Regions from separate parts of the Homo sapiens genome. Here regions 2 and 3 are each reported to be linked to region 1. The links are microRNA targets in miRTarBase. Many come from high-throughput screens and were not tested one by one. Region 1 holds a microRNA gene; each other region holds the end of a gene's coding sequence.

Region 1 (3,192 bases):
CCTTTGGCTTTTACTCCCCTAGCCCCTGACTCTTGCTGAAGGCTTTCTTCTAACTCCTACTCATTTCTGACTCAGAACTTTTGATCCCTCCTAACTGTTGGTTGACCCCTACTGGTACACGGTTGCTGATATGTCCCACTCTCGATTCAGGTAATCTATGTCTTGGTACTGCTCCCCTGTTTCATCATTGTCGGTTTCTTCATCCGGACTCTACTCCTGGAAGGGGCAAAATTTGGCCTTCAACAGTTGGTGGTTGCCAAGGTGAAATCTATCTCCTCACTCCCCCGTCAGGCCTTGTAGGGCACCACAGCTGCCTATTCTTAGAGCTTCCTTTCCCCATTCTTTACTTTTGTATCTCCCTCTCTCCTCCCTGCAACATTTCTATTATAGTTGTCCTCTGCTTCTTCTTTTACAACCCCCTTATGCTTGTCTTCTCTCTTTTAGATATCGGATGTGTACAATATGAGTGTGTGGTCTCTAGCAGGGGGTCAAGTTTTGTCTAACACAGGCATAGGCCTTGGCTCCGTTGCCTCCTTAGCCTCCTACATGCCCCAGTCCAACAACTGTCTCAGTGATGCCTTTCTCGTGTCTGTGATAAACCTGCTCACTTTGTTGGTTTTCACATCTTTCAACTTCTGTGTCCTGGGCTTCTGGGCGACAGTCATCACACATCGCTGCTGTGAGAGGTAAGGCCGGCCCCTTTGTTAAGGGTCTCAGCTCCAGGGAACTTTAAAACCCTGAGACCCTAACCTTAAAGGTGCTGCAAAGACCCATGTTCACACATTTCAACCTTGGGTGCACTTGCAAGCCCTCTACCTTCCCCATAGCTAAAAATGGAGACAATAGAATCTCCTATCATATATTATCCTTCTCAGAGCCTTTTGTCACCCTAGAAATAAATCTTCAAACTCAGAGATTGCCAGCTATCCACCTCAGAGTGGATATGCTAACAGGGATGTACTAAAAATTGCAAACATTGAAGGCTTCTCTAATCCCAGATACACAACAAAATACCATCCAAGACCATACCACACAGAGACTTCCAAGGCCATCCTTGGAAAAATGGAGAAGTAGAAGGCCCCCATTATTTTATTTTATTTTTATTTTTTGAGATGGAGTCTCGCTCTTTCACCCAGGCTGGAGTGCAGTGGCGCGAACTTGGCTCACTGCAAGCTCTGCCTCCTGGGTTCAAGCCATTCTCCTGCCTCAGCCTCCTGAGTAGCTGGGACTACAGGTGCCCATCACCAGGCCCGGCTAATTTTTTTGTATTTTTAGTAAAGACAGGGTTTCACCATGTTAGCCAGGATGGTCTCGATCTCCCGACCTCATAATCCGCCCGCCTCAGCCTCCCAAAGTGCTGCGATTACAGGCGTGAGCCACCGCGCCCTAAGGCCCCCATTCTTAACTGTTAACTCCTGAATTGGGGATTTCTGTCAATCTAGCAGAAACTCCAAAAGGATTCTCTGTACTAGAACCTTGATTGTCTGATCACCCCTGTTTCTTATTTTTCTTATTTTTAGGCATTAATTCCAAAAACATCCATCAGACAGACATTTAGGAAGTGTTCTTTCTATACAACAGAGACTTGGACAGGTGAATCAGACCACAGTCCTTGTTTCATTAAGTTTTCAATTTTGGAGGGGGAAGGAAAGGAGAATGAGACAGCCAAAAACTTGTGCTAACTGGTAACTGAAGTGATGGGTGAGGACAGGAGACAGAGCCATTAATTCTGTCTGGACTAGTCAGATGGGGCCTTCCAGAGGAGGCAACCCTGAGTTGAATTTCTCCCAGTAATCTTTTTTTTTTCTTTTTCTTTTTTTTCTTTTTCTTTTTTTTTGCTTCCTCCTCCTCTTCCTCTCTCTCCCAGCAGATTTTTTTTTTTTAATTTAAATTTTTGAGAACAGGGTCCCACTATATTGCTCAGGCAGGTCTTGAACTCCTGGGCTCAAGCCATCCTCCTGCCTCTGCCTCCCAAAGAGCTGGGATTACAGGCGTGAGCCACCGCGCCCGACCTCTCCTAGTAACCCTAACCCTCACAAATAACCACCATTTTCTTCTAGAAGATGCCTGGGAATATACATGTGTGCGTGTGCAAGAGTTCTTGACAGCATATAGTTAGGAAAGGAATTGCTGAGTAGGGTGTGCTCCCCTTCAATTTTATCATATATTGTCTGGTTTTCAAAGTGGCGTAATGCATTGCCCTCCCATCAGGGATGTGTGAGACTTCCATTTGTTCTACTTTTTGCACAACACTTGATTAAACTTGGTTGGACTTTTAAATTGTTTCCAGTCTGGTGGGAGTGTAATGGTAGTTTTTTTGTGTATTTTCAAAAAAACCTTTTATTATGAGCTATTACCTACATATGGAAAAATGCATAAAACAAGGCCGGGAGCAGTGGCTCACGCCTGTAATGCCAGCTCTTAGGGAGGCTGAGGTGGGAGGATTGCTTGAACCCAGGAGTTTGAAATCAGCTGGGCGAGACCCTTCCTCTAACAAAAAAAAAAAAAAAGTGTATAAAACAATGCACTGTGTAACGAACCGTGAAGTAAACATCACCTGTATTAAGAACTAGAATAACCCTAGATGCTCTCTGTGTATCTTTTTCTAATCATAATCTCTTTACTGCCTCCCAGAGGTAACCATCATAAAAGTCAGGATAGTGGTTACTATATTGCTTAGTAGATACGCATACATAGATGATCAAATGTAAAGAAAAACAAGCCGGGTGCGGTGGCTCATGCCTATAATCCCAGCACTTTGGGAGGCTGAGGCAGATGGATCACGAGGTCAGGAGTTTGAGACCAGCCTGGCCAATATGGTGAAACCCCATCTCTACTAACAAATACAAAAATTAGCCGGGCGTGGTGGCACACACCTGTAGTCCCAGCTACTCAGGAGGCCAAAGCAGGAGAATTGCTTGAACCTGGGAGGTGGAGGCTGCAGTGAGCTGAGATTGTGCCACTGCATTCCACCTGGGCAACAGAGTGAGACTCTCTCTCAAAAAAAAAAAAAAGAAAAAAAAAAAACAAAGAACTAAGGATAGTGATTAATGTTTTTCTTTATATTCTATCATCTATGTATGCATAGCTAAGCAATATAATTTGTCCACTTATATAAAGCAATATGTTTAGTTATTTGTTCCCTCATATATACATTCTCTTTGCTTACTTTTGTGCTTTCTTTTTCTCATC
Region 2 (3,000 bases), not on the chromosome of region 1:
CTCCTGCCCCTGCAGCGCCTGCGGCGGAGAAGCGTGCGGCCCGGTGTGGTGGTGCCCCGGGTCCGAGTCAGCAAGGCGCCCGCGCCCACCTTCCAGCCCGAGCGGCCGGCGCGGAAGGGCAGCACCAAGGACAGCGGCCACCTGCAGATCCCCAAGTGGCGGTACAAGGAGGCCAAGGAGGAGAAGAGGAAGGCAGAGGAGGCCGAAAAGAAGCGCCAGGCCGAGGCGCAGAAGGAGAGGCGCACTGCGCCCTGGAAGAAGAGGACGTGAGGGCCCGTGTGCCTGGCGCTGGGGCCGGGGCTGGGGCCGGGGCGGGGCCGCAGGGCTGGGCGCGGAGAAGGAGGCGGCCCCGTTGCGCATCGCACCACTTCCGCTCCATGGACCACGGGGCTGCGCGCATTTCCAGGCTGTTTGTCCAGGCTGCTTCCAAGAGAGGGCTGAGGGAGCCACATGGATTCGCTTGTCGCCAGCCCTCCTAGCAATCAGTACACCTAGCGGGCACGTTGCCTAAAAGGCTCCCTTTAGAGAACCTCAATTAAGATTTTTTTTAAAGATCAATTTATCAAAGGGCGTTTTCTCCGTAATTTTGTATTTTTAATCATTATTTATCAAATTTGCAACGTTTTACAAGTGATAGGGCCCCTTATATCCAAGGCAGTTTTAATACACTTGCCTGAAGACCTTTTGTTTAAGATACTGTTTCTAGCAATAAGTATCCATGATACCTGTATGAGTTCACACAGACATCATGGGATTCTCCCCTTTTTGGCTGTTTGGTCTTTTCTCCTCATCGTGGGTGTAGGTGCACACTGGATGTTCTTAGTCATTAGATTAAGTGTTGCCGGATATTTCTATTTGACGGAGGCATTGGCTCGTTGAGCCACATGATCAAGTGAGACAGAGGATCAGATGTTACTGTATCTTTTTAAAACTCTTATCCATATAGTAATATATTGAGGAAAAACATATTGTCAAATTATAAAACAATGGAGCGATAAACATGTATTTATTGCTAGAATTAAACTCATTTTAAGCAAGGGGTTTTAGGTAAACTGGATACGAAATCTTTAACATTAAAAATAGATATGAGAAAAAAACTGTCATTCGATAAAATGAGGCAAATTTAATAATAAATGATTACCAGAAATACAAAATTAAGCCATATGTGCTCTTAAGTAATTCGAATCCAGATATCCTTAAAATGTCAAAAAGATGCAACAAGAGTCAGGAGCCCAGAATGACGCAAATTACAGGAATGGGGAGGAGGTGATTTTTAGAAGAGGTGAGAGAATGGAATGGGGAACAGACTTGTTTTCGGCAAATTCTCCTGGAGTAGACTGGGCAGCCCCCTCCTCCAGGCTCAGTTCCAAAGAGTCCGTTGTGTGGATATTTCTTTTATTTTTCCTTTGAGGACTGCGCTTGGTGTTTAGTTCATCCTTATGCCGACCTCTTAGAATTTCCAAGATGCAGGGCCTTGGGCAGGGCAGGGCATGGGTGTGATTTGCCTTGGGCCACAAGCTCTTGGTGAGAGTCTTATGTCCACACTTTTATCTCCAAAGTGACATGGAGATCACTTTTCTCAGTGATCAAATTTGAATTTATCAAAGGGGGTTTTCTGCATAATTTTGTATTTGTAATCATTATCAGATTTGCAGCATTCTAATTCGGCAGGGCAGGGTATGAAAGCTGGAAACTCAGGCTGGAGTTTCTAGTTCTAATGGCTCTCTGGCCATGTGGGTTGTAGAGTGTCTGTCACATATGCACTTTATTTCAGTATTAATTGAAATACTTGGACACGCACGATCACAGGCCTATTTGGAGGCTCTGTACTATGACCCTAATAACCCTAGATACATCATGATACATGGTGTCTGTCTCAGGATGCAGGCAGGGCTGGTGCAGGCTTCTCCATACTCCCTTCCACTTGGCACCAGCAGGCATCGAGCAACCAGGGATCTTAAACTGGCCTCTCCAAATACTCCATTGAACAGGACTGCAGGCTGCACCCAGGCTAATGGGAGATTGGTGTGTTGATGATACAGTGTTTAAGATGAGATTGCAGTGAGTTCCTCCTTAATCCCAGAAGGGCACCATGATGAATGCCACAGGAGACTGGACCCTCTTTGAGAACTGCAGATATTAGTTGACTGTGGGTCACCCTCGTGGCCAAGGAGTTGGGATTGGCCATGTCTTCTTCGAGGAGGTGGAGACTGTAACTGACACTGGTTATCTTTGGGGTTGTCTTTCCTGAATCCTTTGGCATGTGGCACCTTCCTGCCACATGTAGATAATTCACGGCATTACCAAGTCACCACGAGCCCCACCCTCACCTCTGTCAACCGAGGACCCAGCCAGGCAGTGCCATGTGGTCTCCCAGGCACGCTTCTCAACACCGGCTACCCCTGCTGTGAAGGTTCTCAAGGCCCTGGTCCGGGGAGCCAAGCCCTGGGAGCGCCCTAAAGCTCCGCAGGTAACTGCACTGCAGCCCGCATTGAGAACCGCAGCTCTAACACAGTGATTGCGAGAGGACACCCATTCTGAGCTCCCACAGAGGGCTCCACCTCCCCAAGAATGTCTCATTGTCATTGGAACAGCCAGGGTCAGGCAGCTTCTGCTCGGACTGACGTGGCGTCTGACCCTTGGTGGGTTGCCAGACATTCCTGCCTGTTTCCACCATGGGAAGCTGTCACTGGGAATGGTATGGAGCCCTCACTTCTACCCCAAGCCTGGGTGTCTGCTGCCTCCATGTCAAAAATGGACATTTCTGGTCCTGCCCAGCTGCTACCTCACCACAACCCATGCTCAGAGTTGTCAGGGATGCGTGGAACAGCAATGATGGGACAGCAAATGACTGGCAATTTCCCCAGGTCCCACGCTGTTCTGGAGTGGACGTGTTGCGGCCCTGCCCCCGATGTGTTCCAGCCTCATCCAGGTGCACAGGATACTCTGGGGCCAGCACAGGGATTGTCCAGTGATGCTCCTGGTGTCCACAAAACAGCT
Region 3 (3,000 bases), not on the chromosome of region 1:
ATTTTTTTTTTCTTAAATAGATCTCCTTTCTGTGAAGAAATAATCTGTTGCCGTGGAGACCAAGTGCGACTGGCAGTTCGTGTCCGAGTATTTACTTACCCTGAATCTGCATGTGCTGTTTGGATCATGTTTGCTTGTAAATATCGCTCGGTATTATAGGGCCAATATTTATATAAGATTTATACCTGTGTTTAATTGGAATTTTACACATTGTACATTACTTAGCTATTTAGAGGTTTGTTATTTTAAAATCACAATCTGGCTTGAATGGCATACTTCAATTTTGTATATACTTGACTGGTAATGTTTAAAAAAAATCATGCATTCCTTTAAAAATTAAGGCTGAAAAACTTGTATAAATCTCCCTGGAATTTAGTATAAATTAAGTGTATATTCTATTTTAATAAATGCTACTTTGTTTACAGTTATCAGTAGTTTAAATATTAATATAAAATGCATTCAGTTTTCTTTACACAAACAGGTAATCAAAGAGATGTTTGTCTAAGGGTTTGAGCCCTAGACAAATCAGTATGATCATTACTTTTCACAGGTTAATGGAATTATTTTATACAGATTAGGAGAAATTAACCTCATGACAGATTTATTTATTGCATTGGTGAAAATAAATGTTAATGAATTACCACTTTTGTGGTTTATTCGTGGTCCTTGGGATATTTGAGACTGTCCAGAAATTTATGGTTGGACCTTGAAGCAAGAGTAGGAAAAAACTAATACCAGAAAAGCATAAATATTAATAACCTCATATGAAAGTACATGAATCATTTAGAAATATTTATCACTGTGATTTGTTGTAAAAATGAATTGGGTATTTTAGAAAAACTTTATTATACCTCTTTGTTATGATACTGATAAATTGTGATCTTGCAGTCGATCACTGATTTTCTGTGGTCAGAGGATTCATTATTAGCCTCTTCATGGATTCTATCTTCTGAAACCCTTTTTTCTTTCATTGTGATAAAAAAATCAGCATATATGTGACTAATCTAAATAAGAGATTGATTGTGTGAGACCACTGAAAACAAGCATATGTGAGTGATTCCATACTGATTTTTGTTTTAAAATTGAGCACGTTTTAAAAATTTTGTAAGGCTCGGCGTAGTGGTTTATGCCTGTAATCCCAGCACTTTGGGAGGCCGAGGTGGGTGGATCACTTGAGGTCAGGAGTTCGTGACCAGCCTGGGCAACATGGTGAAACCCTGTCTCTACTAAAAATACGAAAATTAGGCCGGGTGCGGTGGCTCACACCTGTAATCCCAGCTACTCAGGAGGCTGAGGCAGGAGAATCGCTTGAACCTGGGAGGCAGAGGTTGCAGTGAGGTGAGATCGCGCCACTGCACTCCAGCATGGGAGGCAGAGCGAGACTGCATCTCAGAAAAAAAAAAAAGGGCCAGGCATGGTGGCTCACACCTGTAATGCCAGCACTTTGGGAGGCTGATGTGGGTGGATCACGAGGTCAGGGGTTCAAGACCAGCCTGGCCAACACAGTGAAACCCTGTCTCTACTAAAGATACAAAAATTAGCTGGGCATGGTGGCATGTGCCTGTAGTCTAGCTACTCAGGAGACTGAGGCAGGAGAATCGCTTGAACCTGGGAGGCGGAGGTTGTGATGAGCCAAGATCATGCCACTGTACTCCAGCGTGGGCAACAGAGCAATACTCCATCTCAAAAAAAATGTTTTTTATAAGTTAATTTTAAGTAGCTAGGCATGGTGTCACACACCCATAATCCAAGCTACTCGGGAGTCTGAGGCGGAAGGATCGCTTGAGTCCACAGAGGTGGTGAGCTAAGATCGCGTCACTGCATTCCAGCCTGGGTGACAGAGCAAGACTCTGTCTCAAAAAAAAAAAAAAAAAAAAAAAAGAAAGTGTGAAACCTGATTCCTCAACTTATTTTAAAATTTTATATATTAAAAAAAGTGTTAAGTGAACAAAAGTAAACTTTAAAAAGAGTAGCAATTCAACTTTTTGCAAGAAGCTGCATAATACATGATATGAGGGGTTTGATTGCCCATTTAGCACTTCTGTGCATAGTTCTTTTCATTTTTTTTAAGTTTTTTATTTTTTCAAAGAATCTTTGTTCACTCTGATATGTGTAGTTCTTAATTTAGTTGCTTTATCCATTGGTCTTAAGAAAGTAACTCTATACCAGTTGGCTATCCAAGTTATTAATTCTTTTAATCACTTTAATTCACCCCTACAAATAAAATGATTTCGTTTTTCGAAAATTAAAATCTAAAAGTGTCTTAAAATTTACTTTTTGGGCCAGGTGTGATGGCTCACACCTATAATCCCAGCACTTTTGGAGGCTGCGGCCAGAGGATGGCCCAAGAAGTAGCTCAAGACCAGCCTGGGAGCATAGAGAGACCCCCCCCTATTTCTCTAAAAGAATAAATCTACTTTGTTTTATTTTTATGTATAATAAATATTCAATTTGTTTAAAAAGTCTGAAATATTATGATCCCTCTTCTACAATTTTCATCAAAAATGGTAATCAGATGTTTCTTGTGAGACTGACATGACTGTAGAAAATTAGCAAAATAATAATTGAAGCTTTTTTTAAAGCATAGTGGTTCACACCTATAATTCCAGTACTCTGGGAGGCTGAGGCAGGAGAATCTCTTGGGTTCAGGAGTTTAAGACCAGCCTGGGCAACATAGCAAGAACCCCTCTCTACAAAAAATGTAAAAAATTAGCAGGGCGTGATCGTGCACACCTGTGGTCCCAGCTGCTTGGGAGGCTGAGGTGGGTGAATCACTTGAGCCCAAAAGATTGTGCCACTGCACTCCAGCCTGGGTGACAGAGCAAGACCCTATCTCAAAGAAAAAAAAAACTTTTTAAAAAAGTTAAAAAAAACCACTCTTTTGCCAAAATTACAAAAAAAGCTATCAACAGAAAATTGCTTGTAATTTTCAACTTTTGAGACAAACTATGAGGTATGTACTAAGAGACAGACTATATTAAGATCAAGGCTGTATTAACA

What was found. The annotated mature microRNA hsa-miR-4324 reads CCCUGAGACCCUAACCUUAA and lies in region 1 at 736-755, shown strand. An mRNA with a match to its seed (bases 2 to 7 or 8) in the 3' UTR can be bound and repressed. Matches are read on the target gene's strand: a 7mer-m8 pairs with bases 2 to 8, a 7mer-A1 pairs with bases 2 to 7 and ends in A, and an 8mer does both.
Region 2: miRTarBase lists ANKRD33B as a target of hsa-miR-4324. Seed matches in the 3' UTR shown: 8mer at 1,875-1,882.
Region 3: miRTarBase lists CEP76 as a target of hsa-miR-4324. The part of its 3' UTR that is shown has no 7-base or 8-base seed match.

What each region holds. Positions count from the first base shown.
Region 1 is chr19:49,306,370-49,309,561 of GRCh38, reverse strand. MIR4324 (microRNA 4324) reads left to right here and starts at 694; the gene lies at 694-765. It overlaps SLC6A16 (solute carrier family 6 member 16), which reads left to right. Exons shown (of 12, transcript NM_014037.3): 6 at 151-261; 7 at 445-686.
Region 2 is chr5:10,649,844-10,652,843 of GRCh38, forward strand. ANKRD33B (ankyrin repeat domain 33B) reads left to right here. Exons shown (of 4, transcript NM_001164440.2): 4 at 1-3,000. The coding sequence ends at 270. Among named protein-coding and RNA genes, the nearest start is that of ANKRD33B, 87 kb to the left of the region's middle.
Region 3 is chr18:12,670,524-12,673,523 of GRCh38, reverse strand. CEP76 (centrosomal protein 76) reads left to right here. Exons shown (of 12, transcript NM_024899.4): 12 at 21-899. The coding sequence ends at 159. It also overlaps a transcript of PSMG2 not described here. Among named protein-coding and RNA genes, the nearest start is that of SPIRE1, 14 kb to the right of the region's middle.